Regions from separate parts of the Homo sapiens genome. Here all the other regions are linked to region 6. Evidence: fine-mapped expression QTL. A gene starts in region 6. Each other region holds a variant in brackets. All regions are shown on one strand. Distances are between the middles of the regions. Region 1 overlaps CCDC18 (coiled-coil domain containing 18). Region 2 has its middle 5.5 kb from the start of MTF2. Region 3 overlaps CCDC18 (coiled-coil domain containing 18). Region 4 has its middle 47 kb from the start of DR1. Region 5 overlaps CCDC18-AS1 (CCDC18 antisense RNA 1). Region 6 holds the start of CCDC18-AS1 (CCDC18 antisense RNA 1).

Region 1 (5,239 bases), 150 kb before region 6:
TTTGGCTGTCATACTTTTTTCGGTTTCTGAAGTTTTTTTTTGTTCCGATTGTTTTGTATTTCATAACATACTAATGTAGTATTCTCTCTTAGCACTCTGAAGATTTAATGATTTTTTTTTCATGTTTGCTTTACTTTCCTTTTTCTTTTGTTTAGGCCTCTGACTTTTATGTTAGAAGCTTTTGGGCCGGGCACGGCGGCTCACGCCTGTAATTCCAGAACTTTGGGAATCTGAGGTGGGCAGATCACGAGGTTAAGAGATCGAGACCATCCTGGCCAACATGGTGAAACCCCGTCTCTACTAAAAATACAAAAATTAGCTGGGCGTGGTGATGTGTGCCTGTAGTCCCAACTACTCGGGAGGCTGAGGCAGGAGAATTGCTTGAACCCAGAGGCGGAGGTTGCAGTGAGCCGAGATCGCGCCACTGCACTCCAGCCTGGTGACAGAGTGAGACTCCATCTCAAAAAAAAGAAGATTTTTTCAGGTGTTAGTATTTTAGCTATTCATATTTAAGAGAAAGGCATTTAAATGCAGATTGGTGGTTTGTTGTCCAGTGGACTTTATTTCTGGGTGATGGTTAGGGAGGTGGTTCTTTTGTAGGGAAACACCTGCCAGCCCCCAAACAGTATCAGTATGAGATGTTTTTCTTTCCCTTTTTTTTTTTTTAACATAAACTCAAGATTTTATTGTCTTCATAATAAAACAAAAGATAACACTTAGAACTGGGTCACTTGGCTCTTTCTGCTCTTACCTCCTCCCAGTTGAGAAAGCTTGCATCTTTTAATACTCAGCATTCTCTTAGATCTGCAGTTGGGCTCAGTGCACTCAAGCCTTAGCACAATCTTCTTTGTAGTTTCAGCCTTTTTCTGGAAAATCTACTTAGTCTGCCCACCATAACCACTCTGCTTCCTGTCATATCGACACTTTCCCTGGGCATACAGAGAATCCTTGCCCTTCTTGTACTGTGTCACTTTCTAGGGTTGGTGCTTGCCACACTTCTTACAGAAAGTCCTGCAGGTTTTAGGAATGTTCACCATGTTTGCGGGAGTGCTATCAGCAAGGAGATTTTTTTTTTTTTTTTGGAGCAATTGAGTTTCTCCAGCAAAGAATCCTTTAGTTTCTCACCTGTGGGATAACCCAAAATGAAATTGAGTAGTAAGGTGGGGCTAACCGTTTTATATTAATTCCCTTGTTACAGCTGTACTTCATTCCTGCTCATTACTCTTAGTGTCTCACAGTCTCAAGCTTCTTCTGTTCAGTTTCTTCTGATAATAAACTTTCTGCCTCTTTCCTAGTATGCCAACACCTTGCTATTGGTGTTCTGGGAGTGGGAAAAAGAGGATGACTGTTACTTGCAGATACTTTGAACTGTATCCCTGGTTTTTCATTGGGTCCTCACTTCTGCCCTCTACAGTACCTTGTGCCTTCATGTTCTAAACTTCTTTTTCAGTGATAGTTATCTTATTGATACTCTCTTCTATACCATTTAGATTGTGGGTTCCCACCCTGCTATAGTAGTTGTACTCTCTTTATTATACAGATTGTAGGGTTATTATGCTTTTCTGTATTTAGATTCTTCCTAGTAAGCATGTATTCTATAATTAGGTTTTTAAATCATAAAAATTCAATAAATATTTTCTTTTATAATTGTTTATAGTTTGATATTTTATGTTTAATTTTCTAATTTATGTAAAATAAATCTTGCTAGATGCTTATCAATAGAGATTCTATTTTCTCCCCTAAATAACTCTTCAGTTATAAGTTGAAGGTAATGCCAGGAGCTTACATGCCAAGGCTGGCTTATAATGATGATATGCCCATGTAAATGTTGATCAAAGGAATAGATGGGAAGCTTTATATCTGACCAATGATTTGGGAGCCCTATTGAACACCCTCATCTGACAGGAAAAAAACTAAGGACCAAGTAGGTTAATTTATTTTCTGAAAGTACTATAAAAGTTGTTTTTATGTTTTAGGTTTCTATGCTTGAGTCTGCTCAACAGCAGGCAGCCAGTGTCCCAATCTTAGAAGAACAGATTATAAATTTGGAAGCAGAGGTTTCAGCTCAAGATAAAGTTTTGAGGTAAATATACTTTTTATAGCTCTCAAAGTTTTATTTTCTACTTATACATTTTATTATATCTTGTTAAATCTTGTTCCCCACACCCAATAAATTTACAGTAACCTAATGGTGTTCAGCTGTCTTAGAACTTGTTGAATCTATTTTTAGTCAATCATAACTCCTCTTGGCT[G/A]TAGGTTGCATGTAGTATATAGGGGCTAAAAAGACTAAGGTGAGATGCCTATTTACATGCTTTTATCAAACATGAATTAGTTCATTTCTTCACCTACATAGAAGTATATACTCAGTGTTTCAAAGGGAGTTCAAGAAATAAAATGTAAAGGAGTCAGACACTTTTATTATTTTTACAGAAAGGGTCTCACTGCGTCACCTAGGCTGGAGTGCAGTGGTACAGTATGGCTCACTGCAGCCTCAGCCTCCTGGGTTCAAGTGATCATTCTGCCTCAGCCTCCCAAGGAGGTGGGACTACAGGCACGCACCCACTGTGCCCAGCTAAGCTTTTTATTTTTTATTTTGTAGAGACAGGGTCTCACTATGTTGGTCAGGCTGGTCTCAAACTCCTGGCCTCAAGCAGTCGTCCTGCCTCGGCCTCCCAAAGTGTTGGGATTGCAGGCATGAGCTGCCATGCCTTGCCATCAGGCACTTTATAATTTATTCTCTTCTGCTTTGAATAAAATGGGAAATATATGCATATTAAATAACATATTACTCTGAGTGATTCCGAAAGTATAGTTAAAGGACCAGCAGTAGTAGCATCACCTGGGAACTTGTTAGAAATGCAAATTCTCAGGTCTTATCTCTGGCATACTGAACCAAGTTGGGAGGGGTTTCACAAGTTCTGCAAATGATGCTGCTGCACACTGAAGTTGTCTTTTATGTCCATCAGAGTTTTGTAATTTTCTTTGTAATACATATATTATTTTAAATTTGTAGGTATTTTATATTTTTGGCAATTGTGAATTGTTCCTACTTTGTTCATTGCTAGTGTATGGGAAGGTTACCGACTTTTGTATAATATAATTATTTTGTAATTGGTAGCTAATGGTATTATCAGCAAATAAAAAAAATTTTGTTTCTGAGTCAAAGAGTAGGAAAAAGAAAGAAAGAAAAAAAATTTTGTCTTTCCTTTTCAGCATTTATACTACTTATTACCTTTTCATATTTGCTTTTTGCAGTGGGTAGAACTGTCAGAAAAGTTGTTGGATGTGGGGGTGATAACAGTCATCTTTATTTAGTTTCTGAACTATACAGGAATGCTTCTGGTATCTGACTATAAAATACGATGTGAGTTATTACTTCAGATATATTTATCATCTGGTGGAAGTATTCTTTTATTCTTTAAAAAACTCTTAATTAACAAGTGATGAATATGCCTTTTTCTCTATCTCTTTTTGTATATTGTTTCTCTTAACTCATTGATTTAAACAAATATAATTCCTAATATTAAATTATTCTTGCATACCTGGGATAATCTCTTTAGTAGTCTTAAACAAAGTATCCTTTATTTTATAGAGAGGCAGAAAATAAGCTGGAACAGAGCCAGAAAATGGTAATTGAAAAGGAACAGAGTTTGCAGGAGTCCAAAGAGGAATGTATAAAATTAAAGGTGGACTTACTTGAACAAACCAAACAAGGAAAAAGGTATGTGTTTTTAAAGCAAATACATGTTTTTGAAAGGGAATAAAAGGAAATATTACCTATTTAAAATTCTAGTTAATTTTTGAAGTGAAAAAATTTCAGAGATTTGGCAATAAATTAACTTAATGTTCTTTTTTATCTATTAATTTTTTTAAATTTTCCATTAAAATGTTTATATGTGGAATTTATGTTATTAGCATCCTGGATTGGGCTTAATTTCTACAAAACTGATAACGATTATCAGTTTAATGATACTTATTTCTGAAATTAAGTTCTATGGCCTATTTGAAACCAGTACACTGAGTTTAAAATACTAACAGGGAAAAAGCCTGTAAATTAATATTACCTCTAATAAAACTAAATAAAATGTTGAATGAACTCTTTAAAAGAAAATTTTGCCTCATAGAGAAAGAAACTCAATGCCTGTGAATGTGTGCTTGGATCTTCCTTTAGAAATATATAAATAGTACAAAAATATCTATTTTGTATAAATTATATCTTGAGATCAAGTCTTTTAAGTAGCTCTGTCCAAGGAACCATTAACTCTGAATGCCAGTTCACTTTTAAACTGATAAAGATTTAAATTTTTTGAGTTTAAACTAATAAGATTTTATAATAAAATAGGATTATAGCAGTTGTTATACAGTATAAAGTCATAATCTGTACTAAGCAATTTTGCAATTTTGCAATTTTGCAATTTGCAATATTGCTTAGTAGAAAATGCGTAGGTTTTGGAGTTAGAAAATTTTTAGATTTTACCTCTCATTGGCTTTGTTACCTTGGCCAAATGATATAACCTTTTGAAATCTCAGGTTTTTTTCATCTGTTAAATAAAGATGATATTATCTTGATATGGATAGAAATGAAGAGTAAATGAAAAAAAGAAATGTACCTCTTAAAAAATACTAACAATTTAACTATTTTATAAACTTTGTGGTTAAATACTCTAGAATTCACACTTCACTTACTCAGATAAGCTTTGCACGTGGTTAGTTAAAATAGTGAGATAATAATACATGAAGACCACATTCACAATATAGCTGCCAAGAAAAAATAAAGAGGAAGAGCTACTAGTTTCCTCTATGCAACTTAGATAAGAGATGACTTTTAGGATAGAGTATTGACTTTGTTGTTGTTGTTGTTGTTTGAGATGGAGTCTTACTCTGTCTCGCAGGCTGGAGTGCAGTGGTGTGATCTTGGCTCACTGCATCCTCCGCCCCCTGGGTTCAAGCAGTTCTTCTTTCTCAGCTTCCTGAGTAGCTGAGATTACAGGCATGCACTACCACACCCAGCTAATTATTGTATTTTTAGTAGAGACTGGGTTTCACCATGATGGTCAGGCTGGTCTCAAACTCCTGACCTCAAGTGATCCACCCTCCTTGGCCTCCCAAAGTGCTGGAATTACAGGCGTGAGCCACTGCGCCTGGCTAAATATTGACTTTGGCTTCACAAAGTGAGTAAGTGGGGGACAGACACATTCTGGGCAGCATGTGCAAAGGTATAGAAGTATAAAAGGGTATT
Region 2 (5,239 bases), 270 kb before region 6:
GAGACCTACTGCTCAGAGAAAAAGATTTCTTTCAAAATATTACTGTTCATTGACAATGCACCTAGTTGCCCAGGAGCTCTGATGAAGATGAATGTTGTACAAGGAGATGAATGTTGTTTTCATGCCTGCTAACACAACATCCATTCAGCAGCTGTGAATCAAGGATTAATTTTGACTTTCAAGTCTTATTATTTAAGAAATACATTTTGTAAGGTGATGGCTACCTTAGATAGTGTTTCCTCTGATGTATCTGGGCAAAGTAAATTGAAAACCACCTGGAAAGGATTCACCATTCTAGATGCCATTAAGAATATTCACGATTCAGCTGGGCGCAGTGGTTCACACCTGTAATTCCAGCACTTTGGGAGGCCAAGGTGGGCGGATCATGAGGTCAAGAGATCGAGACCATCCTGGCTAACACAGTGAAACCCCGTCTCTACTAAAAATACAAAAATTAGCCAGGCGTGGCAGTGGGCGCCTGTAGTCCCAGCTACTTGGGAGGCTGAGGCAGGAGAATGGCGTGAACCCGGGAGGCAGAGCTTGCAGTGAGCCGAGATTGCGCCACTGCACTTCAGCCTGGGCGACAGAGCAAGACTTCTTCTCAAAAAAATAAAATAAATAAATAAAAAATAACAAATAAAAAAGAATATTCACGATTCATGGGAGGAGGTCAAAATATCAACATTAACAGGAGTTTGGAAGAAGTTGATCCTAAATTTCATGGATGACTTGGAGGGAGTCCTTCAGTGGAGGAAGTCACTGCAGATGTGGTAGAAAGAGCAAGAGAACTAGAATTAGAAGTGGAGGCTGAAGATATGCCTTAATTGCTACAATCTTATGATCAAACTTGAACAGATGAGGAGTTGCTTCTCATGAATGAGCAAAGAAAGTGGTTTCTTTTTTCTTTTCAAGTATTTTAAAAATTGAAGTAAAATCCAGGTAACATAAAAGTAACCATTTTAAGGTGAATAGTTCAATGGCATTTAGTACATTCACACTTGTGCAATCATCTCCTCTATCTAGTTCCAAAACATTTTCATTACACCAAAGGGAAACCCCATACCCATTAAGCTGTTACTCACTTCTTATCCTTCCCGATATGATTTGGCTCTGGGTCCCCACTCAAATTTCATGTTGAATTGTCATCCCCAGTGTTGGGGGAGGGGCCTGGTGGGAGATGATTGGATCATGGGGGCAGATTTCCCCCTTGCTGTTCTCATGATAGTGAGTTCTCACAAGATCTGATTGTTTAAAAGTATGTAGCACCTTCCCTCTGGCTCTCTCTCTCTATCCCCTGCTGGCCTTGTGAGGATGTGCTTACCTCCCTTTCACCTTTCACCATAATTCCTGAGGCCTCCCTAGCCATGCTTCACATATAGCCTGTGGAACTGTGAGTCAATTAAACCTCTTTTCTTTATAAATTACACAGTCTCAGGTAGATCTTTATGGCAACGTGAGAATGGGCTAACACATCCCCTCCCCCAGCCCTTGGCAATCACTGTTCTAAGGAAAGTGGTTTCTTGAGATGAAACCTACTCCAGTGAAGATGCTGTGAACATTGTTGAAATGACAGGCTGGGCATGGTGCCTCACACCTGTAATCCCAGCACTATGGGAGGCTGAGGTGGGTGGATCACTTGAGGTCAGGAGTTGAAGACCAGCCTGGCTAACATGGTGAAACCCCGTCTCTACTAAAAATACAAAAATTAGCCAGGCATGGTGGCACGTGCCTGTAATCCCAGCTACTCAGGAGGCTGAGGCAGGAGAATCGCTTGAACCTGGGAGGCAGAGGTTGCAGTGAGTGGAGATTGGGCCATTGCACTCCAGTCTAGGTGACAGAGTGAGAGTCCATCTCAAAAAAATAAATAAATAAATTATGAGAAAGGATTTGGAATATTATATAAACTTAGATGATAAAGCAGCAGGGTTTGAGAGGATTGACTCCAATTTTTTTTTTTTTTTTTTTTTGAGACAGGGTCAGCCGGG[C/A]ATGGTGGCTCATGCCTGTAATCCCATCACTCTGGGAGGCTGAGGTGGGTGGATCGCCTGAGGTCAGGAGTTCGAGACCAGCCTGGCCAACATAATGAAATGCTGTCTCTACTAAAAATACAAAAAATTAGCTGGGTGTGGTGGTAGGCACCTGTAATCCCAGGTACTAGGGAGGCTGAAGCAGTATAATTGCTTGAACCCAGGAGGCGGGGGTTGCAATGAGCCAAGATCACACCATTGCACTCCAGCCTGGGAAACAAGAGCGAAACTCCGCCTCAAAAAAAAAAAAAAAAAAAGTCTCACTCCAGGCTGGAGTGCAGTGGCATGAACACAACTCACTGCAGCCTTGACCTCCCAGGCTCAAGCCATCTTCCCTCCTCAGTCTCCCAAGTATCTGGGACTACTGACATGTAACACCATGCCTAGCTAATTTATTTTTATTATTTTTATTTTTTGTAGTGAAGGGGTCTCGCCATGGTACCTAGGCTGGTCTGGAACTCCTGGACTTAAGTAACCCTTTTGCCTCAACCTTCCAAAGTGCTGGGATTACAGGTGTGAGCCACCTGACCCAGCCAATTTTTGAAAGTTCTACTGTGAGTAAAATGCTATCAAACAGCATCATATGCTACCAAGTAATCTTTTGTGAAAGGAACAGTCAATCGATGTAGCACACTTCATTGTTGTCTTGTTTTAAGAAATTGCCACAGCCACCCCACAAACCTTTAGCAATCACCACCCTGATCAGTCAGCAGCCGTCAACATGGAAGCAAGACCCTCCATCAGCAAAAAGACTATGACTTGCTGAAGGCTCAGATAATTTTTAACATTTTTTTTTAGCAATAAAGTATTTTTAAATTAAGATTTGTTTAAAGAAATAATGCTATTGAACACTTAATAGACTACAGTATAGTGTAAACATGACTTTTATATGTACTGAGAAACCAAAAAAATTCATGTGACTATTTGCTTTTTGTGGTGGTCTGCTACCGATCCTGCAGATTAATACAGGTATGCCTGTATTAACAAATCTAGATTGTATCAGTCAGAGTAGGCTAAAATATGCTGGGTAGCAGACAACTCCAAACTGCAGTGGCTAATACAACAAAAGTTTGTTTCACCATTTGAACATTCACATGCAAAAAAAAAATTTTTTTTGAGACAGGGTCTTGCTTTGTTGCCCAGGCTACTGCTCAGTGGCAAGATCACAGCTCACTGCAGCCTCAACCTCCCAGGCTTAATTGATCCTCCCACCTCAGCCTCCAAAGTACCTGGGACTACAAGTGCACACCACCATGCCCAGTTAATTTTTTTTTTTTGTATTTTTTGTAGCGACAGGGTTTTGCCATGTTGCCCAGGGTGGTCTCAAACTCCTGGGCTCAAGCAATCCTCCCACCTCAGCCTCTCAAAGTGTTGGGATTACAGGCAGAAGCCACCACACCCAGCCACAAGAAGATTAATACAGACCTATACCTCTCACACTGTGCACAAAAAATAACTCGAAATGGATCATAGACTTACATATAAGAGCTAAACCTATAAACTTCTGAAGAAAACATAATAGAAAATAGACTTTGGTAAAATAATTCTTAGTTATAACACCAAAAGCATATGGTATTTAAAAAAAGATAAATAGGATTTCATTGAACTTAAAATAAATTTTTTTCCCTTCAAAATACATTAAGCCCTGGCAAGGGTGGCTTGCACCTGTAATCCCAGTTACTTGAGAGGCTGAGGTGGGAGGATGGCTTGAGGCCAAGAGTTCCAGGCCAGCCTGGGCTACATATAGAGATCCCATCTCTAAAAGAATTAAAACAAAATTAGCTGGGAGTGGTGGTGTGCACCTGTAGTCTCAGCTACTTGAGAAGCTAATATGGGAGGATTGCTTGAGCCTAGGAGTTTGAGGTTATGGTGGGCTATGATCAGTGCCACTACACTCCAGGCTGGGCAACAGAGTGAGACCTTGTTTCTGGGGGAAAAAGAAAAGACATCATTATGAAAAATGAAAAGACAAGTCATAAAGTCATAGACAGGAAGACAATATTTGCAAATCATGCTTCTGTTAAAGAACCTAAATCTAGAATATATAAAGAACTCTTACAAGTTGATATAAGAAGATTGTCCAGTTAAAAAATACATAAAATATTTGAGTAGGCACTTCACTAAAGAAGATATAAGAATGGCTAACAAACCAAAGATGCTCAATAGCACTAGCCATTAGGGAAACCACAATGAACCACTTCACTCCCACTGTTTTAAATTATTATAATAATTTTTTTTTTTTTTTTGGCCAGGTGCAGTGGCTCATGCCTGTAATCCCAGCACTTTGGGAGGCCGAGGCAGGCAGATCACAAGGTCAGGAATTTGAGACCAGCCTGACCAACATGGTGAAACCCAGTCTCTACTAAAAATACAAAAATTAGCCGGGCGTGGTGGCACGTGCCTGTAATCCCAGCTATTCAGGAGGCTGAGGCAGGAGAATCGCTTGAACTCAGGAGGCAGAGGTTGCAGTAAGCCAAGATTGTGCCACTGCACTCCAGCCTGGGTGACAGAGAGAGACTCCATCTAAAAAAAAAAAAAATTATTATTTTTTTAGAGACAAGGTTTCACTGTATTGCCCTGGCTGGTCTCAAACTTCTGGGCTCAAGCAATCCTCCAGCCTTGGCCTCCCAAAGTGCTAGGATTACAGGTGTGAGCCACCATGCCTAGCAATCCCTACTGTTATGAGTGAAATCAGAAAGATAGACAAGTATCAGTGAGGATATTGGGAAACTGGAAGGCTTACATATTGCTTACACTTTGGAAAACAGTTTGGCAGTATCTTAAAATGTTAAACATAAACTTATCATACAACTCTGTAATTCCACTTCTAGGGATCTACTCAAGAAAAATAAAAAACGAATGTCCATACAAAGATTTGTACACAAATGTTCATAGCAGTCTTATTTATAATAGCCCCAGATTGAAAACAACATAAATGTCCTTCAACTGGCGAATGGATAAACAAAATGTAGTACATTCATTCAAATGGAGTCTATTTGGCAATAAAAAGAAATAACTACTGACTGGTACAACGTAGATGAACCTAAAAAATATTCTGAGTGAAAGAACCCAGATGCAAAAGACTACTTATTGTATGAAACCATTTATATGAAATTGTCAGAAAGCAGATAGCAGATTGCCTAGGGCTTGGAAGGAGGGTTGACTGCAAATGCGCATAATGAATTTTTTGGGGGTGATGGAAATGTTTTAAACGT
Region 3 (5,239 bases), 87 kb before region 6:
AGTCCAAGCACAGAGAGAAATAGAAAGGCTCTCTAGTGAACTGGAGGATATGAAGCAACTCTCTAAAGAGAAAGTAATCCCTATTTTAAATAATCTTATGTATCTGAAATCTTACAAATATTAGCATTTTTTTTGAACTGTAGAATATAGTTCTTTCAAAAATGAACTGTATTGCACAACAGTGTGAATGTACTTAATCCCACCGAATTATACACTTAAAAATGGTTAAAATGGTCAATTTTGTGTGTATTTTACCACAATTTTAGAAAATAATGAACTGTGTTATATATAGATAACTTTGTAATATAACCAGGAAGTCCTTCAGAACTGAGTTTTGGCTAAACTAGTTCTCAAATTGAGTTATAAAGCACTTTTAGACTTTTAAGTGAGTTCGAGCTCTTACTTGAAGAAAAAATAAAGCTAATCTTTTTTGAGTAAAAATTTTTACATTTGTAGTGACTCTTAAAAATGAAAACTATTGGCTTGGCACGGTGGCTCATACCTGTAATCCCAGTACTTTGGGAGGCCGAGGCAGGCGGATAAGTAAGTCAGGAGTTTGAGACCAGCCTGGCCAATATGGTGAAACACCATCTCTACTAAAAATACAAAAAACAAAATTAGCCAGGCATGATGGTGGGCACCTATAGTCCCAGCTACTCGGGAGGCTAAGGCTGGGGAATCGCTTGAATCCCGAAGGCAGAAGTTGCAGTGAGCTGAAGTCGTGCCACTGCACCCCAGCCTGGGCGACAGAGCAAGACTCCATCTCAAAAAAAAAAAAAAAAAAAAAAAAAAAACATGAAAACTATCCAAATTTGTAACTATTAAATTTGTAACTTTTAGGAAACCTGTAGTTCAAAACCCTTGGTTGATAAAGTAACTTGGAGGTAAAGTGCTTTTAAAAAGCAAAAATACTAATATAAATTTTATTTTTCCAGTATTTGGTAGGAAGTTAACTACTTGGCTTAAAAATATTTACATTGGTATACTTGGGTTAATTATTTAGACTTTAAGAAAAATGTGTTTATTGATGTTGCAAAAAAAAAAAATTCAGCTTTCCATTGTGGTTTCCATGGTTTAATTCAATTCCATAGGAACTGAATTAAAATATTTTTACCTTTAATTTTGGTTAAGCCTACCTATGTTGTTATTCACATTTCTGGATGGTTAGACCAGTAAAGCATACATAGAGAATGTTTATTAGAGATATATTATACATTTGGGGTTCTAGGAAAAGGAAAGCTATCTACTTTTATCTCATTTCTGCCTTTATCAATAGTGTCAAAGTATAGTACAATTGGTTTTTATTTGATAAGCTAAGCTCACTTTAAAAAGTGAATTAAAGTTAGGAATTTTTTAATTGACAGTGTTTTAAATACTTATTTTAACCCAAAACTAAATATATATTGATATGTTTTTCCTTTGATGTAGGGCCAAACCTTGGTTCTTTTTGTATGAGTCATTTGATTAGAATTCTACCTAGTCTTTCTCACATAACTAGACTCCTACCTGGTCTTTCACCACACTATATTCCATCATCTATAGTTTCCAATTCTGCTTTCTTTAAAGTGGAGGAAGAATTAATTAAAAGACATTAATTAAAATTAAAATAATTAAATTAATTAAAATTAAATTAATAAAAATTAATTAATAATAATTAATTAAAAGACATTTGTAAGTGAACCATGTTATATTTTTATGGGACCTCCTACCATATTTTATAACAATTTTGAGTGTTTCTAATTGGATAGCAAAATGTTCATGACTTACTTATTAAGCTGGTTCAAAACATATAACTTAGTTTTTGGATAAAAACTTTGCATTTGCTTATTTCATCATGTTCATAATCTATAATAAAATTACACAATTAAAATTACAAGCACAGTTAGCTAAATTAGCATAAATAAGTTTGAATAAAAACACAACTGACTCTTGATAAACAGACAATATATATAGTGAGCAAAAATATACAGGCATACCTAGCAGTAGACTGTTATCTGCCAGAGTTCAGTGTCCTGAGGTTATTATTAATAGTTCATTTTATAGAAAGCATTGGTTAGTGAACATCTATTTTATGATGACAGCAAACAATTATATTAATACTCTCCCATTAATAGTCTCTGAAATGTCTAGATTTTAAAGCATACTATTTAGTAAGTTAACTTTGTGTCTGTGTTTATATAATATAAAAAATTAAACTACTTCCAATAATGCACTGGATTAGTTTAGCTATAATAACCAAATAAACAAGTTTTATAGCTTTTACTCAATATGTCATTTTTAAGGATGCTCATGGAAACCATTTAGCTGAAGAACTGGGGGCTTCTAAAGTACGTGAAGCTCATTTAGAAGCAAGAATGCAAGCAGAAATCAAGAAATTGTCAGCAGAAGTAGAATCTCTCAAAGAAGCTTATCATATGGAGGTAAAGAAAAATTTAATTTGTTTTGTTAGTGCCCACTAAAGTAGGTTGACCTATCTGGACAAAAGTATGAGTCCAGCTCTTAAGTGTTCATTATTGAATAATACATTGTGGTCTTCATTTCTGGTAGCCTAAACATACAGCTTTCACTTTAATATACTGTGGGGTTAAGAGCTTGAATTCCTGAGCCAGGCAACCTGGTTCTAAACCCTAGCTCACCACGGAGCCACCTGTATCACCTTGGGTAAGTTACTTAACCTGTGTCTAAAATGGATATAATAATAGTATCTACCTCATAGAACTGTGGTGAATATTAAATGAATTAATATATAATATAAAATAGCATTTGTAAAAGATTAACTGGAAATATTTAATAACTGATATAAACCGTTTCATGTGATGTAAATCTATAATGCTTTGCAATTTTCAGCATTTCTTCTTATAATAACTTAGCTAGAGAGATAATACTAGAGCCTTTTTATCTGTCAGCATGTCTTGAGCCTTCACAGAAATGGGCAGTATTATTGACTAGAATAGCATTTTTCATCTTTTTAAAAAC[T/C]ACATTTAAAGATATTACCCAAAATCTCTGTATATGATTTAAATAAATTACTTACGTTTAGTGCTAATAAAGCGTTTTTTCTAATACGGCAAGGGTTGCAAATATTTATGTTAAACTCCATTCAAGGGAGTTTGGTGACATTTTTGTGAGTGATTGGTAGGGCTTGTGGGGACCATGTCTTGCTTAAATACATTTAGAATCATATCTCTTTGAAAGCATTGTGCCTGCCAAACAAAACATATTTACAAGCTGAATCTAATCCTAAGGCTAAGAATTTGCAACCTTTGATCTTTAGCGACAAACCTGAATGAATGCTGTTGGACTCAGCATAATTATATAATTGTTATTAACAGCTCAGCTTAGTAACTATCAGTAATAATTAGGCGCTTTCAAGTGTTTGCCCTTAACTACTCATTACACTTTCATTATATGGCCTCTGTTCTGTTTTTAAGTATAATTATCCAATTGTTTCTTTTAGTTTTATAAGCCACCTGAAATTATAAATAGATTGTACATAAAATAAATTGTAAAATTAGTTCAGTATTGCTATCTTTTTAAAAAAGTGATGGGGTCTGTGTTGCTCAGACTGGCCTCAAATTCCAGAGCTCAGATAACCCTCCCCACTCAGCCTCTAAGTAGCTGGGAGTAAAAGCACACGCCAGCCGGGCGCAGTGGCTCACACCTGTAATCCCAGTGCTTTGGGAGGCCAAGGCAGGTGGATCTCTTGAGGTCAGGAGTTCGAGACCAGCCTGACCAACATGGCAAAACCCCGTCTCTACTAAAAATACAAAAATTAGCTGGGTGTGGTGGCGCATGCCTATAATCCCAGCTACTCAGGAGGCTAAGGCAGCAGAATTGCTTGAACCTGGGAGGCAGAGGTTGCAGTAAGCCAAGATCGCGCCATTGCAGTCAAGTCTGCGTGACAAGAGTGAAACTCCGTCTCAAAAAAAATAAGTACATGCTGCTGCATTTTAATATTTAATATTACTATTTAATATTTGATACTAATATTTTGTCTATAATATTGAAGTATATATTTTTACCTGTTTGGAAGTTGATAAAAATTTACTTTTAAAATATATATGTTGTTTGAATATAAAAATGAGAGGATATGGTATTAAAGTAATAGAGAGCTAGAAAAGAGGATCAATAATTTTTAACAGTTTTTTTTATTATACTTTCTTTTTTTTTTAATACATTAAGTTCTGGGGTACGTGTGCAGAACATGCAGTTTTGTTACATAGGTATACACATGCCATGGTGGTTTGCTGTACCCATCAACCTGTCACCTACATTAGGTATTTCTCCTAATGTTATCCCTCCTCTAATCCCCCACCACCCAACAGGCCCCGATGTGTGATGTTCCCCTCCCTAGGTCTATGTGTTCTCATTGTTTAACTCCCACTTATGAGTGAGAACATGCGGTGTTTGGTTTTCTGTTCTTGTGATAATTTGCTGAGAATGATGGTTTCCAGCTTCATCCATGTCCCTGCAAAGGACGTGAACTCATCCTTTTTTATGGCTGCATAGTATTCCATGGTGTATATGTGCCACATTTTCTTTATCCAGTCTATTATTGATGGACATTTGGGTTGGTTCCAAGTCTTTGTTATTGTGAATAGTGCTGCAATAAACATACATGTGCATGTGTCTTTATAGTAGAATGATTTATAATCCTTTGGGTATATACCCAGTAATGGGATGGCTGGGTCAAATGGTATTTCCAGTTCGAGATCAACAGTATTTTTTAATATATAGGTTTCCAAATTGTCAGAAAATCACTTAATAATAAATGTAAAACTCCTGACTTATTGGAGGAGAATGAGATTGTTTTAACCTTTAATTGTGAAAAATTTAAATATATTTAAAAATAGAATAGTATAAATAGTATATACATCCTCATATTTATTTTTGAACGTTAATAATTTTCAATGCATAGCCAATTTATTTCATCCATAAATACATTGACCATTTTCTTTATCTAAAAGAGAATACTTTTGAGAATGAAAAGGAATGCTATAGTAATTACATGAGGGTACCAGGCATAAAACCTAGACAGTCCTAAGCATTCTCGGAAGTGTGTCAACATACCTTTAACCTTTGAAAGCACAGTGCTTTCAAAGAGATATGATTCTAAATGTATTTAAGCAAGACATGGTCCCCACAAGCCCCACCAATCTAAGCAAGACATGGTCCCCCAAGCCACATCAATCACCCACAAAAATGTTACCAAACTCCCTTGAATGGAGTTTAACATAAATGT
Region 4 (5,239 bases), 47 kb after region 6:
CCTCTGGTAGAATTCGGCTGTGAATCTCTCTGGTCCTGGACTTTTTTTGGTTGGTAGGCTATTAATTATTGCATCAATATCAGAGCCTGTTTTTGGTCTATTCAGGGATTCAACTTCTTCCTGGTTTAGTCTTGGGAGGATGTATGTGTCCAGGAATTTATCCATTTCTTCTAGGTTTTCTAGTTTATTTGTGTAGAGGTCTTTATAGTATTCTCTGATGGTAGTTTGTATCTCTGTGGAATCAGTGCTGATATCCCCTTCATCATTTTTTATTATGTCTATTTGATTCACACATAACAATATTAACCTTAAATGTAAATGGGCTAAATGCTCCAATTAAAAGACACAGACTGGCAAATTGGATAAAGAGTCAAGACCCATCATTGTGCTGTATTCAAGAGACCCATCTCAAATGCAGAGACACACATAGGCTCAAAATAAAGGGATGGAGGAAGATCTACCAGCCAAATGGAAAACAAAAAAAAGCAGGGGTTGCGATCCTAGTCTCTGATAAAACAAAGATCCAAAGAGACAAAAAGGCTCAAAATAAAGGCTCAAAATAAAGGGATGGAGGAAGATCTACCAACCAAATGGAAAACAAAAAAAAGCAGGGGTTGCAATCCTAGTCTCTGATAAAACAAAGATCCAAAGAGACAAAAAGGCCATTACATAATGGTAAAGGGATCAATTCAACAAGAAGAACTAACTGTCCTAAGTATATATGCACCCAATACAGGAGCACCCAGATTCATACAGCAAGTCCTTAGAGGCCTACAAAGAGACTTAGACTCCCACACAATAGTACCGGGAGACTTTAACACCCCACTGTCAACATTAGACAGATCAACGAGACAGAAAGTTAACAAGGATATCCAGGAATTGAACTTAGCTCTGCACCAAGCTGACCTAATAGACTTCTACAGAACTCTCCACCCCAAATCAACAGAATATACATTCTTCTCAGCACCACATCACACTTATTCCAAAATTGACCACGTAGTTGGAAGTAAAGCACTCCTCAGCAAATGTAAAAGAACAGAAATTATAACAAACTGTCTCTCAGACCACAGTGCAATCAAACTAGAACTGAGGATTAAGAAACTCACTCAAAACCACTCGACTACATGGAAACTGAACAACCTGCTCCTGAATGACTACTGGGTACATAACGAAATGAAGGCAGAAATAAAGATGTTCTTTGAAACCAACGAGAACAAAGACACAACATACCAGAATCTCTGGGACACATTCAAAGCAGTGTGTAGAGGGAAATTTATAGCACTAAATGCCCTAAGAGAAAGCAGGAAAGATCTAAAATTGACACCCTACCATCATAATTAAAAGAGCTAGAGAAGCAAGAGCAAACACATTCAAAAGCTAGCAGAAGGCAAGAAATAACTAAGATCACGACAGAACTGAAGGAGATAGAGACACAGAAAACCCTTAAAAAAATCAATGAATCCAGGAGCTGGTGTTTAGAAAAGATCAACAAAATTGATAGACCGCTAGCAAGACTAATAAAGAAGAAAAGTAGAAATTTCTTACTCACGTAAAAATTTAATGGTTATCAGGGAGACAGATGTTAATGGGAGATTGGAAGGCAGTGGTTGGAGCAAACTATCTTTGCTAATGTAGTCAATCAACATCTAGCTGGTAGAAGGGGAAAGAGAGAGAGAGAGAGCAGCATGCAGATCGTGCATGGGTAGTTTTTATGGGCCTGATCAGGAGTAGCATAAGTTACTTTCACTCACATTCTGTTGCTCTGAATTCATTCTACACAGCCACACCTAATTTCAAGGGATGCTTTTCATCCATGAAGAAGAGTAAGTGGGTTTGGTAAACAGCTAGTTGATCTGTAATTCTATGATGGATATAAAATTTCTAAAATACTTAGATTCATTTTTTGTAAAATAAAAAGAGCAAAGTCACAGGTCTACTTTTAAAGTTAGTATCTAAACTGCAAAAAAAAAAATGTATTTTTTGTGAGGGCAGTCCATTGAGATTTGGGTTTGAAACATCTTTAGTTATAGCAAGCAGGCAGTAGCAATCTGACAGACTTTTCTGGTTTATAGTTGGTGTGTCGCAAGGTTGTTTATACATGAGCTTCAGCTCATAGAACTTCAGGATAAAGAGAGTTTCAATTTTAGTGAGTCCAAGTCAGAAAAATGGAAGAAAAATTTAGAAACATTAGTTTGGAGACTTATAGCCAGGAAAGAATTCAGGATTCGGGATTTCCTGCAAGGAAAATAATAAAATCCCCAAAACAATGGACAGGGTTAGGAATTTATAACAGGTACATGAAAGTTTTCTTCTGAAACATAGTTTTTCTCTCTTTAGTTCCCTACTTCTAACAAAGATAAATCATAGAAAGACCAATCTATTTGTAAAATTATGTTTTAGTCTTATACCTGGCCTGATTATTTGCATAAAGTAAGTAAGAATAGTGATTTATCACACAGGCTCTTTTAAGTTGGTTTGTTGGAACATTTTCATAAAAAATCTCAGATTAGACTTTCTAAAAGCTTAGGAGCCAGAGCTGAGTGTGATGGTTCATGCCTGTAATCCCAGCACTTTGGGAGACCGAGGTGGGTGGATTGCTGGAGCTCAGAAGCTAGAGATCAGCCTGGGCAACATGGCGAAACACCATCTCCACCAAAAAAATAATAATAATAAAAATAAAAAAATTTAAAAAAAGTAAAAAAGCTTAGGAGCCAAG[C/A]CAAACACTATAATACCTGTACGAAAACTTCGGTGAATACCTTTCTTCTCAAGGTCCTCAAAATACATTGAGGTTCCTGGGTCTGTCCAAAAGTGAGATTCTTTACTTACTTCAAGGTCAGGGACCTTGTAAGGGAACTGTGTAGACAAGGTACCAGGTCAGTCTTTTTCCAAGTCTATTGGCTTTCTAAAGTGAACCTCAATTCCTCAAAACAGTCTAGTCATTTCTAAAAATACGACATTCCAGTCTAATCCTCAGTAATCAGCATTTCAAATTGTGTACTATTACAAAAGAAAACAAATTCTTACGAATCTATGCAAATAATTATATTGTCATAAAATAACACTACTTGCAAATAGTTTCTAAATTTTGGAGGGATCAAATAAAGAGGTAAATATTTGAATTTGGCTCACAAAAGTATACTTTACTTAATTGGTGTAAGCTATAAATAGCTTAAAAGAAAAATGTTTACTCTGGGGAAAAAAGAATCAGCAATGTTTCAAATAAAAAGTTATGGTTAAAAAACAATTTCAGTTTTTCATCAGTTCAGTCTCATGTACTTAAGTATTGTTCCGTGTGATTATACATTAGCAATTTTATGAGTCCACTTTTGTTCTATTAGTGTTCCAAAATTGTTTTACCCCATCTAATGATTCAATCTTGATTTCTTTAAAAAATTTTTTAAAGGATGAGCTTGCTGTTAAAAAAAAAAAAGAAAAAACAAATTTTTAAAATAGAGATGAAGTCTCGCTATGTTGCTCAGGCTGGTCTTGAACTCTGGGCCTCAAGCGATCCTCCCATCTTGGCCTCCCAAAGTGCTGGGACTACAGACATGATTCAGTCTTAAAGTCATCAGAAACATGTATTCAAGATTATTTGTTGTAGTCTTTTCCATGAATTTCCTTAAAGACAAAACTTTAAAACTTATAAAGAGAGAGGCTGAGGCAGGCGGATCACCTGAGGTCAGGAGTTTGAGACCAGCCCGGCCAACATGGCGAAACCCCCGTCTGTACTAAAAATACAGAAAATTAGTTGGGTGTGGTGGCACACACCTATAGTCCCAGCTACTCAGGAGGCTGAGGCACTAGAATCACTTGCACCTGGGAGGCGGAGGTTGCAGTGAGCCGAGATCACGCTGTTGCACTCCCGCCTGGGGAACAGAAAAAAGAACTTTCAGAAAACAAGAGCATAAGCATAAAGCCACAGATGCTTAATTGCGGACAATAAGACTTAAAGTAACCATGATTAAAGATGCAATTGACAAGGAAATTTGGTCATTTTTTTTGTGGCCTACAACTTTACACAATATCCATAATTGTGACTAATAACACATACCAGGACATACCAGATTTTTAAGAATCTCATTCCATTTTGGAACACATACTAACACATTTATACAAATATGACTCGCAAAAGGCTAAACATTATTTCTTATTTCACAATCCTTCCTGCATGATTTTAACATACCAAATAAGCCTAATATGTCTCTCTTGTACTTCCAGGGACCCTTCTGGAGTGTCCAAAAGTTAGCTTGAAGTCAAAAAGACTTAATTTAGAATTTGAAATTTGATTTTAGAAAGCCTGTCAAATATGTCAAAGATTTAAAACACTGGAACAGAAATAGGATCATAGGTCATTCATTTAGCAAAACTGATAATTAAAATAATTCAAAAAGCAAAAATCTTTTCTTTATGTTAGAGAGGGGACTCAGTTTTCTAAACTATCAAAAGGCCTAATAAAGACAGCTGGAGGCAAACAGAGTCTATCTGTCCTTCTCTTACTGTGTGCCCACTTTTTTGCAATTTACGAAAAATGAGCAACAATTTTTTTTTTTACTCATTAATACTACGCAAAAATCTTTTTCAAAAGAGAAAAGCAAATTTTATTTATTTTAATTTTTTTAGAGACAAGAGTCTCACTCTATCACTCAGGCTGGAGTACAGTGGTATGATTATAGCTCACTGTAACCTTGATCTCTTGAGCTCAAGCAATCTTTCCACCTTACAACCTCCTGAATAGCTAGGACTACAGGCACATTCCACTGTGCTTGGCTAATTTATACTTTTTTTTTTGCAGAGATGAGGTCTTGCTCTGTTGCCCAATCATGGCTCACTGAAACCTCACCTCCTAGACTCAAGCAATCCTCCCACCTCAGCTCCCCAAGTAGCTGGGACTACAGGCATGTGCTTCCATACCCAGCTAATTTTTGTTTCTTACTTTTTGTAAAGACAAGGCCTCCCTGTGTTGCCCAGGCTTGTCTCGAACTCCTGAGCTCAAGCAGTCCTGCTGCCTTGGCCTTCCAAAGTGCTGGGATTACAGGCGTGAACCACTGCACTTGGCCTTGCCGACAATTTAAAAACTAGTTTTTCTTTGCCAGATATTACTAAATTGACATGAACTTGAAAAGCATTTTGGCTGATTATTTAATTTATGAACACTCATTTATTTAAAAGTCAATTTGGTACCATGTAGATAATATAAAAAGGCAGCCATGTACACATGTATGCATAAAATACAGACAAA
Region 5 (5,239 bases), 21 kb before region 6:
AATTTTATGGAAGAAACAATTTGAATTTTTACCCCTTTAGGTAGCATTGGCTTTCAAAAACACCAATCTCATGTCTTTTACATTCTTGGCCTGGAATTGAATTATGTGAATCTACTGGTTTTGTTTTCCACCCTCTTTATAAGATCTGCTATATCTGGTCCTGATAACACAAGGTCAAGGTCCAGGAAAGAACAAATGTCAATGCTTTCTTTCCTCATGGCCCTTCATTATAGCCTTAGTGAGTCCTTTCACGCATCCATGTCCACACATCTCTGTTTCTCATCAATACAGCCTGTGTGTTTTGAAAGCATGCAATTTATGCCTTTATATCCCTGCTTCTCTTTTTCCTATCAGCAAAATCTATGTGTTTTTTAGGAATTAAATAAGTATATTTTTCTTATATGTATTGGTCATTTTCTATATTTGAACAGTAAGTTCTACTCAACGTATATCTGTGCTGCAAAATTAATTTTCGTACTCAAATTTTGAATGGTGTTTCTTAAAATGACTTTTTTAACACTTTCTAATGAGGTGGTTTTTATTGGCTGACATATACCATTCCTCTAGAATGTTGCTGTGAACTAGATGTGAATTTATGAAGGTGATGAAAATAGCAATTAAGCTAAGAACTACTTCTGGCAGGTAAGAGCATGGTTAATTATTTTCCTTAAAGAAATGCACAAATATATTAGGTTGGTGCAAAAGTAATGGCATTGAAAGCAATGGCAAAAACCGCAATTACTTTCGCATTAGCCAAATACATAGCCAAACAACTTTTGGAAGCCAGACTAACCTGCTGGACATGCTGAACCAGTTTTAGTCTATTCCAAAAGTGGAAAGCGACATGTATGATTCATTCCTGAGACATTTCAAAGAGCCAAATATGTTTATACATGATATAGCATGTCAATATCTTCATGAAAGCTTTTGACTTGCCTTTTTACAAAAGTCTATATGCTGTTTACAAGTGTGGCTTAAGAACCAGAATGGACATGGACATGCATTGGTAACTGGTCAGCAACCAGGTAAATTCCTGTAGCGTCTTTGCTCCTAGCCTACAAATGGGCTTTTTAAGAATAAGCCTCTCACCAAGAACCCACCAAGAGCATTAAGAAATGAAAACATTGCTCAGACCTCTTTTAGCCTGCTCCCGATCTGGAATCTTGATTAGAGAACTTATTTTTAGAGTTTTCCGCATTTGTTCAACTACATGTGTAGGAGGAAAGAACACAGTATCAGTCCGAATGTGTGTCTGTGACTGTTCTCTCGCAAACTGGGGGCTGGAAGTTTAGGGAAACTGTTTTCTCGGATCCAAGCAGAATCTGGATGTAAACCATTTCTAGACTAATATCGGTTTAATTAATTCTTGTGAATCTCCAAAGATTCTACAGCTTGTTTTGGGATACAGCAATTGTTACACCAACCCACCCAATGTAACCTTTATTTTCTGAGGCCACACTTGGGGATTTTGGGTACATGGATAACAAGTTCCCACCCTGTCCTTTCTTTATAAGGACAACCAACGTGTGAGGTTTCTCCCATTTTCATGGGTCCCGAGTGGCCTCCCAGCCCTGGGAGCTTTCTCACCCTTCTGCCAAGGCTCCAGCCAGGACTCTGCACTAGTTCTCCCCCTGCTCCTGCTGGGGCTCTACTCAAAGTTGATAGGGGTGGGGTAGGGAGAGGGATTCCTACCTCCTTCCTTCTGGTGCTTGTAACAGCTCTCTGAGCTGAAAGCTGGCCCTTAGGCTAACTCAATTTAATCCTCCAAGAGGCAGTCTTTTTCTTTAAGCTTTTCTTCAGTTCTTTATTAAAGACTTAAGTTTTCTCAGAGACTAGGCCAGAGAAACGTTGAACTGTATCATAACAAATAATTCATCACATGCAGACAGCTGCTGTCCTAACACTAGCCACAAATCTTAGTTTTCTGCTACCTTAGATGAATTTCCTGCCCTCCCAGGCAGCCCCATTCACTTTCCCTCAAAATGGCTGGAAAAAGTCTCTTCTTATTTGGTTTAGGAAATATAATCATGGTATTCTAGGGTAATAATCATCACTCCAAATTCTTGTATCATTTCTTCCAAGAAGCTTTGAGACCCTCATGCAAATAATACTCTCTTATTCTGATATCTCTGCCTTTCCAAAGTGAACTTGTAGTTTATATATCTTTCTTTTCCCCTATTTGACTAAGGTGGGCCTTGTCCATACAGAATCTTCAACACTGTCCCAAGCTTCATAGAATTCCCAAGGAACTATAGTATGCACCTATGCCCTGTTCTGCACAGCAACTTGGCACCAGCTTCTTCTTTCCACTAGTCTCAACTTATTACAGTCCTTCCACCCCAACCAACTCCTACACTCAAGATCTTGACTACAGAGCTCTGGAATATTAAAAGCAACCACCACTAGCATACTGTGTGCAGAAAAAAAAAAAGTTTGGAACCCTTGGATTTAAATGATTTAGCAAAGACAGAAAAAAAAAATGTATGCTTTGGAGGCAAAATAAGTAAGATTTTCAAATCAGTATTCAAAAATACTTTTTCATTGTCTATTAATTGCAAACAAAACAGGATTTTAGTTTGTCACCACCATAATCCAAGCCCCTATCATGTCTTGCCTAGACTCCTAAAATAATTTTCCTACTTGTATTCTTTCCACCTCCCAACACATTCTCCACACAATATAGTGCTCTTTTAAAACTAAGTCATGTCACTTCCTTGTTTAAATCCTTTTGATGGCTGCCCATTTGACACAGCATAGAGTCAAACTCCTACCATAATCGTAATGGTAGTAATTAATAATAATAATAGATAAGAATAGTAGTAGGTTACCCCTATTATTCCCTATCATTGGACTTTGTTACTTCCTTCACAACATTAATTTCATTGTATTTACTTACTTGTATGTTGTTTGTCTCCCCAGCTTGAATATGAGCTTTCCAAAAGCATCA[G/A]CACTGTTTGTCTTATGTTGGATCCTTATCTCCCAGCATGGTGCCTGGTACGTATTAAGCAATCAGTAAATGTTTATTAAGAGAATAAAGTTTTAGGATTTAAAAGTAACTTAGAAACCATCGAATCCATCTAGTCCCTTTCCCCAATTCAGGGCTTAATTTTCAGCCCTCTGTAATGCAGAGGCTACTTGGATAGCAGTGTTTATGCTGGTGGAGAACAAAAAAGAACAATAGGGAGGAGCTGTTCCCTTTCCCTAATTGATTTTACCTTACTTGTTCCTACATCAGCTTTGCTTTTTACCACTTAGACAAACAGTCATATGAGTCATTTATTCATAGCCAAGCAGCTTAATCATGCATGTGGGCACTCCTTTTTGTGTGTATGTGGAGGGTGGAGAGTTATAGTTGAGTAGTTTCCAAACTAATGTTCATCTAGCTATTTGTGGAATCGTAAAGATTTTGTCTATTAGAGGCATGAGCCACCGCGCCCAGCCTATGCTCCCTCTAACAATTCTTTAATGTAGTATTTTCTAAATTATAAGCTTTGACTCATCATTGCGTATCATAAAGATAACTATGGTCTCATGAACTTTCGTTTCAGTCATAAATGTGACTGTATGTGTTTGAACTGTCTTGCTATAGATGCAAAATATATTTCTTACTGTGGGAAATAAACAACAAAAGTCTGAAAGCCACTGCCTAAATGAGCATTAATATAATATCTTATCTTAGAAAGGAGACTATTTGGTAGTCCTAGGAGAGGATTTGGGTTGACCTCAGAGCCCTCTTAGTCAGGGCTCTGAAGCTATTATGGATTAAGGTGAATGAGAATGGTAATTCTTTCTTTCTTTCTTTTTTTTTTGAGATGGAGTTGCCCAGGCTGGAGTGCAGTGGCAAGATCTCGGCTCACTGCAACCTCCGCCTCCTAGGTTCAAGCAATTCTCCTGCCTCAGCCTCCCAAGTAGCTGGGATTACAGGCATGTGCCAGCATGCCTGGCTAATTTTTATATTTTTAGTAGAGGCAGGGTTTTGCCATGTTGGCCAGGCTGGTCTCAGACTCCTGATCTCAAGTGATTCACTCACCTCGGCCTCTCAAAGTGCTGGGATTACAGGCATGAACCACCACGTCTAGCCTTTTCTAAGTGAAAGCACTATTTTATAGCTTGCAAACACTGTTAGAAAAATCTTCTGGAAGCACGGTATCAGTTATCTGAAATACATTACAAATACAACAAACACATTATTATTTTCATTAGTTCTCCATTACTTTTTTCCTTTGGCCCAACAGATTAGTACCAAAATGGCCTGGGGTCTAGTAAAAGTTGGGGAACAGGGGAAATGGGTGAAGAGAATTAGGCCCAAAAAGAACATGATGGGCTATCCTTTTTGTGCCAATTTCCTTCTTATCGCTTCTTTTTTTTTTTTTTTTTTTCCTTTTTGAGATGGAGTTTCCCTCTTGTTGCCCAGGCTGGAGTGTAATGGTGCGATCTCGGCTCACCGCAACCTCTGCCTCCTGGGTTCAAGAGATTCTCCTGCCTCAGCCTCCCGAGTAGCTGGGATTACAGGCATGTGCCACCACACCCGGCTAATTTTGTATTTTTAGTAGCGATGGGGTTTCTTCATGTTGGTCAGGCTGGTCTTGAACTCCCGGCCTCAGGTGATCCACCCGCCTCAGCCTCCCAAAGTGCTGGGATTTCAGGAATGAGCCACCGCGCCCAGCCCATGGCTTCTCCTTTTACAGTGAAATAGGAAACAAGATCATCTGCTGAGAATGAGGATGAGGGAGGAGGTATTGAAGGCTTGAGAAAAGAAAAGGCAAGAGGTAGTGGAAGAGTGAATGGACTAAGGAAACATAGTCTGGCTATGGGCAGCATTAAGGGATATGTATTTAAAGCAGGTCCAGTGAACATGTTTACCTGTTCAGCTGTGAGATGCAGTAGTTAGAGAGCTGACTTTTACCAGAGATGAAAGGAAATTCTATTTAGGGAAAGAGAAGAGCATAAACAAAGTTTGAGTACTTGAAATTACATGATGTATAAATATATTTTTAAAAATCTTACAGGCTGGGCGTGGGTGGATCACGAGGTCAGGAGATGGAGACCATCCTGGCTAACATGATGAAACCCAGTCTCTAATAAAAATACAAAAAAAATTAGCCAGGCGTGGTGGCACACGCCTGTAGTCCCAGCTACTCAGGAGGCTGAGGCAGGAGAATCACTTGAACCCGGGAGGTGGAGGTTGCAGTGAGCCGAGATGGCGCCACTGCACTCCAGCTTGGGTGACAGAGGGAGA
Region 6 (5,239 bases):
GAAACTCTTAAAGCTTAATAAGGAGATGTTCTCTTTGTCCTTAAAAGCCTATTTATAATACAGATACATGTAGTGTACTATAAATAACTATTTAAATATGGGCTACAGATTAGCATATTTTATGACATATCACACTGGTATTTATATCCAATTAAATTTCTCTCAGCCACGTATGTAATAAACTAGTTACATGGTTCATTACTAGTTGAAGACTGACCAAGCCTGATAAAGATGATAAAAGACACTAACATTATATAACACTTCATACTATAAAAAGTACTTTCACACAACTCTCATTTGATTTTGAATCCTGTGTGTTACATAATATTTCTATATCTGAACTGAAGAAAATGAGGCTTGGAGAGTGACTTGTCTAAGTAAAAAAAAAAGCTGGGACTGGAACCTACAACTCTTACTACACATTCAATTCTGTTTATGCTACCACAGAAGCCTGTAGCAATAAACTATTACTGAAATAATGTGTGCTCTACTCGTCTATTTAGCATAAGTCTATAAACATAAATGTTACATGAAAAAGCAAAGTTATAGTTTTTTCAGGAGAGACAAGATAAGGGTCAGTGACACTGTGACAACTTGGGACATTTTTTGCCAGCCAGCTTTTTCAGACGGATAAACTTGTTAAGGTCAAGATAAATTTAGGCACCATAATAAATCTTTAAATCAACAGTAAACTGACAAAAAAAAACAAACCCACCACTTCATAAAGTATTTTTTTTTTTTTGAGATAGAGTCGTGCTCTGTCTCCCAGGCTGGAGTGTAGTGGTACGATCTTGGCTCACTACAAGTTTTGCCTCCAGAGTTCAAGCGATTCTCCTGTCTCAGCCTCCCAAGTAACTGGGATTACAGGTGCCCACCACCACACCCAGCTAATTTTTGTATTTTTAGAAGAGGTGAGGTTTCACCATGTTGGCCAGGCTGGTCTCGAACTCCTGAGCTTAAGTGATCCGCCCCCCTTGGCCTCTCAAAAGTGCTGGTATTACAAGCATGAGCCACCATGCCCAGCCTGAAGAAAATTTAATTAAAATACTGTTTTTAATCAAAGAAATTTTGTTTTGACTAAATTTAGTAGCACTGAAAAACAAGTGTCTACACTTCAGAAATTAAAGAACCAGTAAGTTGTCCTGCAGAAAATGCTAAATGAAAAAATAGCATAATAAACTGTAATGTCTTCTTGAGAGCAGCATATAGGGCTCAGACAGAACGTTTTAAGAAAACACTGTCAACAAGCCAGTTGCCATCATATGTATCAAGAGTAATGAATCTGATGAACCAAAGTGACAAAATGGATTTCAACAGTGTCTTGTTTAGTTTTTAGAAATTCCAACATCCCACTATTTATAGTATAGCCTCTTCTTCCACATGACAGTATGACAGACTCAGTTTTTTTACTTTTTTTTTTTTTTTATCTTTTTTGAGACAAAGAATCTTGTTCTGTCACCCAGGCTGGAAGTGCAGTGGCACAACCGCAACTCACTGCAGCCTTGACCCCCTGGCTCAATCGATCCTCCCACCTCGCCCTCCAGAGTAGCCGGGACTACGGGTGCCTGCCACCAAGCCTGGTGAAAAAAAAACCCGTGTTTCATATTGTCATATAGAAGAGGCTATACTATAAACAGTGGGATGTTGGAATATATATTTATATATATAAATATATATTATATATATATATATATATATTTTTTTTTTTTGTAGGGACGGGTCTCACTATGTTGCCCAGGCGGGTCTTGAACTCCTGGGCTCATGTGATCCCCCTGCCTCAGCCTCCCAAAGTGTTGGGTTTACAGGTATGATGAGCCACAACGCCTGGCTGACACACTTTTTTTTTTTTTAAATGCAATTTCTGTTTAGACCTTGACACCTGTTGATATTACTAGTCACTATGGAAAGAAGTAAAAACAGTTGCTTAAGATGCTCTAACACTTTTTTCCCCTGTAGAAGCCAACATGGAATACAACATGAAAACTGTCTAAATGGGAACCTTCTAATATAGCTCATTGTATGCCATGCATTTCCACTCCATTTCCACTATGTTGGAACTGACTTCTGCTTTCCTACTTAGCCATTAGGCGACTTAGTTGCCTCTAGGCAAGTAACTTCTCTGAAATGTTTCATTTTTCATGAAGTTTAAAAAAAAAAAGGTGAAGGACTTTAGAGAGCTTTGAACCGAATAAGGTCTATCAGACATCTTGAAAAGCTTTTTCTCCAGACGACGCAGAAACAGGCACACGGGGTTCTGCTTTCCCCACCTCCCACCCCCAAGCCCAGGTCCCATTCTTCTCACTTTCAATCCTCATTTGGGCTCCTAAAGGAATAGCAAAGAGAGTTATTTTATCAATACCAGCGCTCCTCTGTCCCCAAATCCAGCTAGGGAAGGTTTCGGAGGCCTCAGCTACTTGAGAGAGGGTAGAGACGATCCTTCCTCGCCTATCTACCCAGCCACCCACCCCTTCCCAGATGTAGCGTCCGGGCCCCAGACCAAGCGCGTGCTTGGAGCTCTCCGGTACAGTGAGGCGCGCGCTTGCCTGGCTAGGGTCCCTGTGAAGGAATGGGATCCCGAGGTGCTTGCCAGGACCGTAGCAGGCGGAAGCTGCTGGCAGCGCGAACGGGCGGCTCCCGCCGGCGTGGGTGGGGGAAGGGCGGCAGCCACACCCGGAAGTCGGTCCGGGAGGGAGGGGGAAATCTGAGGGAACGAGGCTTCCGGTGGCGCAAAGGGTGTCGGGAGCGGCTTCCTGCAAACCTTCCCTGGCATCTGGAGGGACCACCGTTGCCGCGTCTTCGGCTTCCACGATCTGCGTTCGGGCTACGCGGCCACGGCGGCAGCCACTGCGACTCCCACTGTGCCTGGCTCTGTCCATATTAGTTCCCAGGCGGCCGTCGCCGTTCCAGCAGCGGCAGCGGCAGCGGCAGCGGCGGACATGTTGTGAGGCGGCGGCGCGGGTGTCTGAAGGATGGTTTGGCCGAGGCGGCGGCAACGGCTGCTGGCGGCGGCGGCAGCGGCAGCGGGGCCTCGGGCTCTATAGAGCCGAGCCCGCTGGGTACCCGCCCGGTACCGCGGCGAGGCCAGTGCCCCTGGATCTTGCCTCTGCTCCGACGCCGTTGGGGACCAGTTAGGCGACAGCGCCCGCCCCTCTGAGGAGACACGAAGGTGGTTCCCCAGCCGCTCAAATTTCCGGACCACCGCGCTTTCCCCTCCTCAGCCTGGGCTGTGCTCTCTCTAGAATCCTCGGGCCCCCACTTTCTTCCCAAACTCATCCTAAATCTCTCACACACGCGAGTGTTCCCAGCCCTCAAGCCAGCTGCTCCTCCGTTCATTTTCTGCACCCTCTTCGCAAAGCACCCCCCGGGATCACTCTCCGAGGGCGACTTTTTGAGAAATCTCGGTGGAGTAGTGGACCAGAGCTGGGGAGTTTTTAAAAGCCGGGGCGCGAGAAACAGGAAGGTACTATGGCTTCCTCGTCTGGCAACGATGATGATCTCACTATCCCCAGAGCTGCTATCAATAAAATGATCAAAGAGACTCTTCCTAATGTCCGGGTGGCCAACGATGCTCGAGAGCTGGTGGTGAACTGCTGCACTGAATTCATTCACCTTATATCTTCTGAAGCCAATGAGATTTGTAACAAATCGGAAAAGAAGACCATCTCACCAGAGCATGTCATACAAGGTAAGTCGTGTGTGAGAGCTGGTTTGAATGAGGTTCTAGGGTAGCAGTCTGCTAATCGCGTGACCCTTTCGTGTCAAAGCCTCCATTCCTCTTCCCTGGTAAGTAACTTAATGAAAAAGCCAGACTGGCATGTAGGCAGCCGGTGCTTTAAAAACAATCCCTTTGTAGCATTTTTGCAGTACTTTTCATCCAGCGAATACATGTAAGGAGTGCAAACATTTAGGTCAGCGTCCCCAAAACGTAAAGAATAAGAGTGATCTCACTTTACAGCCAGGTAAGCCGAAGCAACAAGAATTACTTGCCTGAAGTTGAACTTAGATAATAATTAAGGAACGCAGAAATTCTCCTTTGGAAAGTTAAAATTCAGACGGAGGAACTTCAACGTGGGTGGAGACAGAGCACCCCCTTCCCCACCTGACCTTTCACCAATGTAGAGGAAAAGATTTATTTTCTGAACACATGAGTTAAAAAATTCTTAACATACAATGTGTTCAACGTTGTCAAGTTTATCGTTGTTAAATAAAAGGTGTATGTTTTCTGCTCTAAAAATGGTTTGATGGTACGTTCATGAATGAGTTACCAAATAACTCCTGTTCCATTCTGTAAGAATAGGGTGAACTTTAAATTTTCGTTTTTTTCTTTTCGTTTGCTTTTATGTCGTTTGCTTTGTTCTATTCTGTGGAGATAAGTTTTGAAATCTTTGATTGAAAGTTTATGCAAGTTTTTTTTTTAACGGAAAATTTCCCCGTCCTTTCCTGCTGTCATTCCTATTTGAATGTATACACTTAGGCTTTTATGGAACAGCACTTCTGAAAACTTCAACAGTTTCTTTTATCCTGGAAAGGATTTGGTCCCGTAATAGGGATTTGGGGGACTGTATTCTGGTGGTTTCAGAGAGGAGAAACATATTTACTATTCATAATGTTTCGGGAACGTACCTTTTGCGATATTTTTACATGTACTCTTGTGAAAGAGTTGTACTCAATTTGAGGTGAGAACTTGCCTTTTGTAATAATCTAATTAAAGTTATTGATTGCTTGTGAAATCAGGGAAAAATGATTAATTTTAATCATTTTGATAGGCAGGTGGTTGTCTATCACTTAATTTTTATAATTTAACTTTTTAAAATGTGACTTTCCTGTTGTACTGAAGTAGAGAACACATCTGCTTATATTGACCATATCCAATATTTTACTCTCAGTATTGACAAAAGGATTAAATGATTCATTTTTAATCCTTTATGACGTCTTGAAAGTAGTTTTAAAATATATCCTGCCATTTCAGTACACAAGCAGAAAAATCCCTAGGAAAAAGCATATTTGATTCTTAAAACTAGTACTAGTTTTTTTTTTTTCTACTTGTTTGGTGTGCTGAATACTCTAGCAAGTAAAATGAAAGCCAAGTTGTCTATTTTTTCCCTTGTGTATTTATTTTTACATTGTATGTGTGATTGCTGTCATAAGTCTTTCACAAGATTATCCAGCACAGATAGCTATAATTTCTTTTTACAACTCTTAAAAAGGAAAAAGAACCTTTATCAACATTGCCTTTCTA

Evidence for each region. PIP is the estimated chance that this variant, and not a neighbour inherited with it, causes the effect.
Region 1: its variant is fine-mapped to the expression of CCDC18-AS1 in sun-exposed skin (GTEx, PIP 0.92).
Region 2: its variant is fine-mapped to the expression of CCDC18-AS1 in whole blood (TOPMed, PIP above 0.99).
Region 3: its variant is fine-mapped to the expression of CCDC18-AS1 in whole blood (TOPMed, PIP above 0.99).
Region 4: its variant is fine-mapped to the expression of CCDC18-AS1 in aorta (GTEx, PIP above 0.99). The same link has a PIP of 0.9 or more in testis.
Region 5: its variant is fine-mapped to the expression of CCDC18-AS1 in whole blood (TOPMed, PIP above 0.99).

Annotation. Positions count from the first base shown.
Region 1 is chr1:93,190,024-93,195,262 of GRCh38, forward strand. It overlaps CCDC18 (coiled-coil domain containing 18), which reads left to right. Exons shown (of 29, transcript NM_001378204.1): 5 at 1,977-2,083; 6 at 3,593-3,721. It also overlaps the pseudogene RPL36AP11. Among named protein-coding and RNA genes, the nearest start is that of CCDC18, 12 kb to the left of the region's middle. The variant G/A (reference allele first, on the strand shown) is at 2,253.
Region 2 is chr1:93,071,177-93,076,415 of GRCh38, forward strand. No RefSeq gene overlaps it. Among named protein-coding and RNA genes, the nearest start is that of MTF2, 5.5 kb to the right of the region's middle. The variant C/A (reference allele first, on the strand shown) is at 1,986.
Region 3 is chr1:93,256,466-93,261,704 of GRCh38, forward strand. CCDC18 (coiled-coil domain containing 18) reads left to right here. Exons shown (of 29, transcript NM_001378204.1): 25 at 1-73; 26 at 2,283-2,420. Among named protein-coding and RNA genes, the nearest start is that of CCDC18, 78 kb to the left of the region's middle. The variant T/C (reference allele first, on the strand shown) is at 2,977.
Region 4 is chr1:93,390,608-93,395,846 of GRCh38, forward strand. No RefSeq gene overlaps it. Among named protein-coding and RNA genes, the nearest start is that of DR1, 47 kb to the left of the region's middle. The variant C/A (reference allele first, on the strand shown) is at 2,717.
Region 5 is chr1:93,321,739-93,326,977 of GRCh38, forward strand. It overlaps CCDC18-AS1 (CCDC18 antisense RNA 1), which reads right to left. Exons shown (of 9, transcript NR_034089.1): 6 at 4,864-4,924; 7 at 4,031-4,157; 8 at 2,897-2,991. Among named protein-coding and RNA genes, the nearest start is that of CCDC18-AS1, 21 kb to the right of the region's middle. The variant G/A (reference allele first, on the strand shown) is at 2,948.
Region 6 is chr1:93,343,181-93,348,419 of GRCh38, forward strand. It overlaps CCDC18-AS1 (CCDC18 antisense RNA 1), which reads right to left and starts at 2,631. Exons shown (of 9, transcript NR_034089.1): 1 at 2,544-2,631. It overlaps DR1 (down-regulator of transcription 1), which reads left to right and starts at 2,727. Exons shown (of 3, transcript NM_001938.3): 1 at 2,727-3,685. The coding sequence starts at 3,466. RefSeq lists enhancers at 2,322-2,857, 3,227-3,296, 3,357-3,566.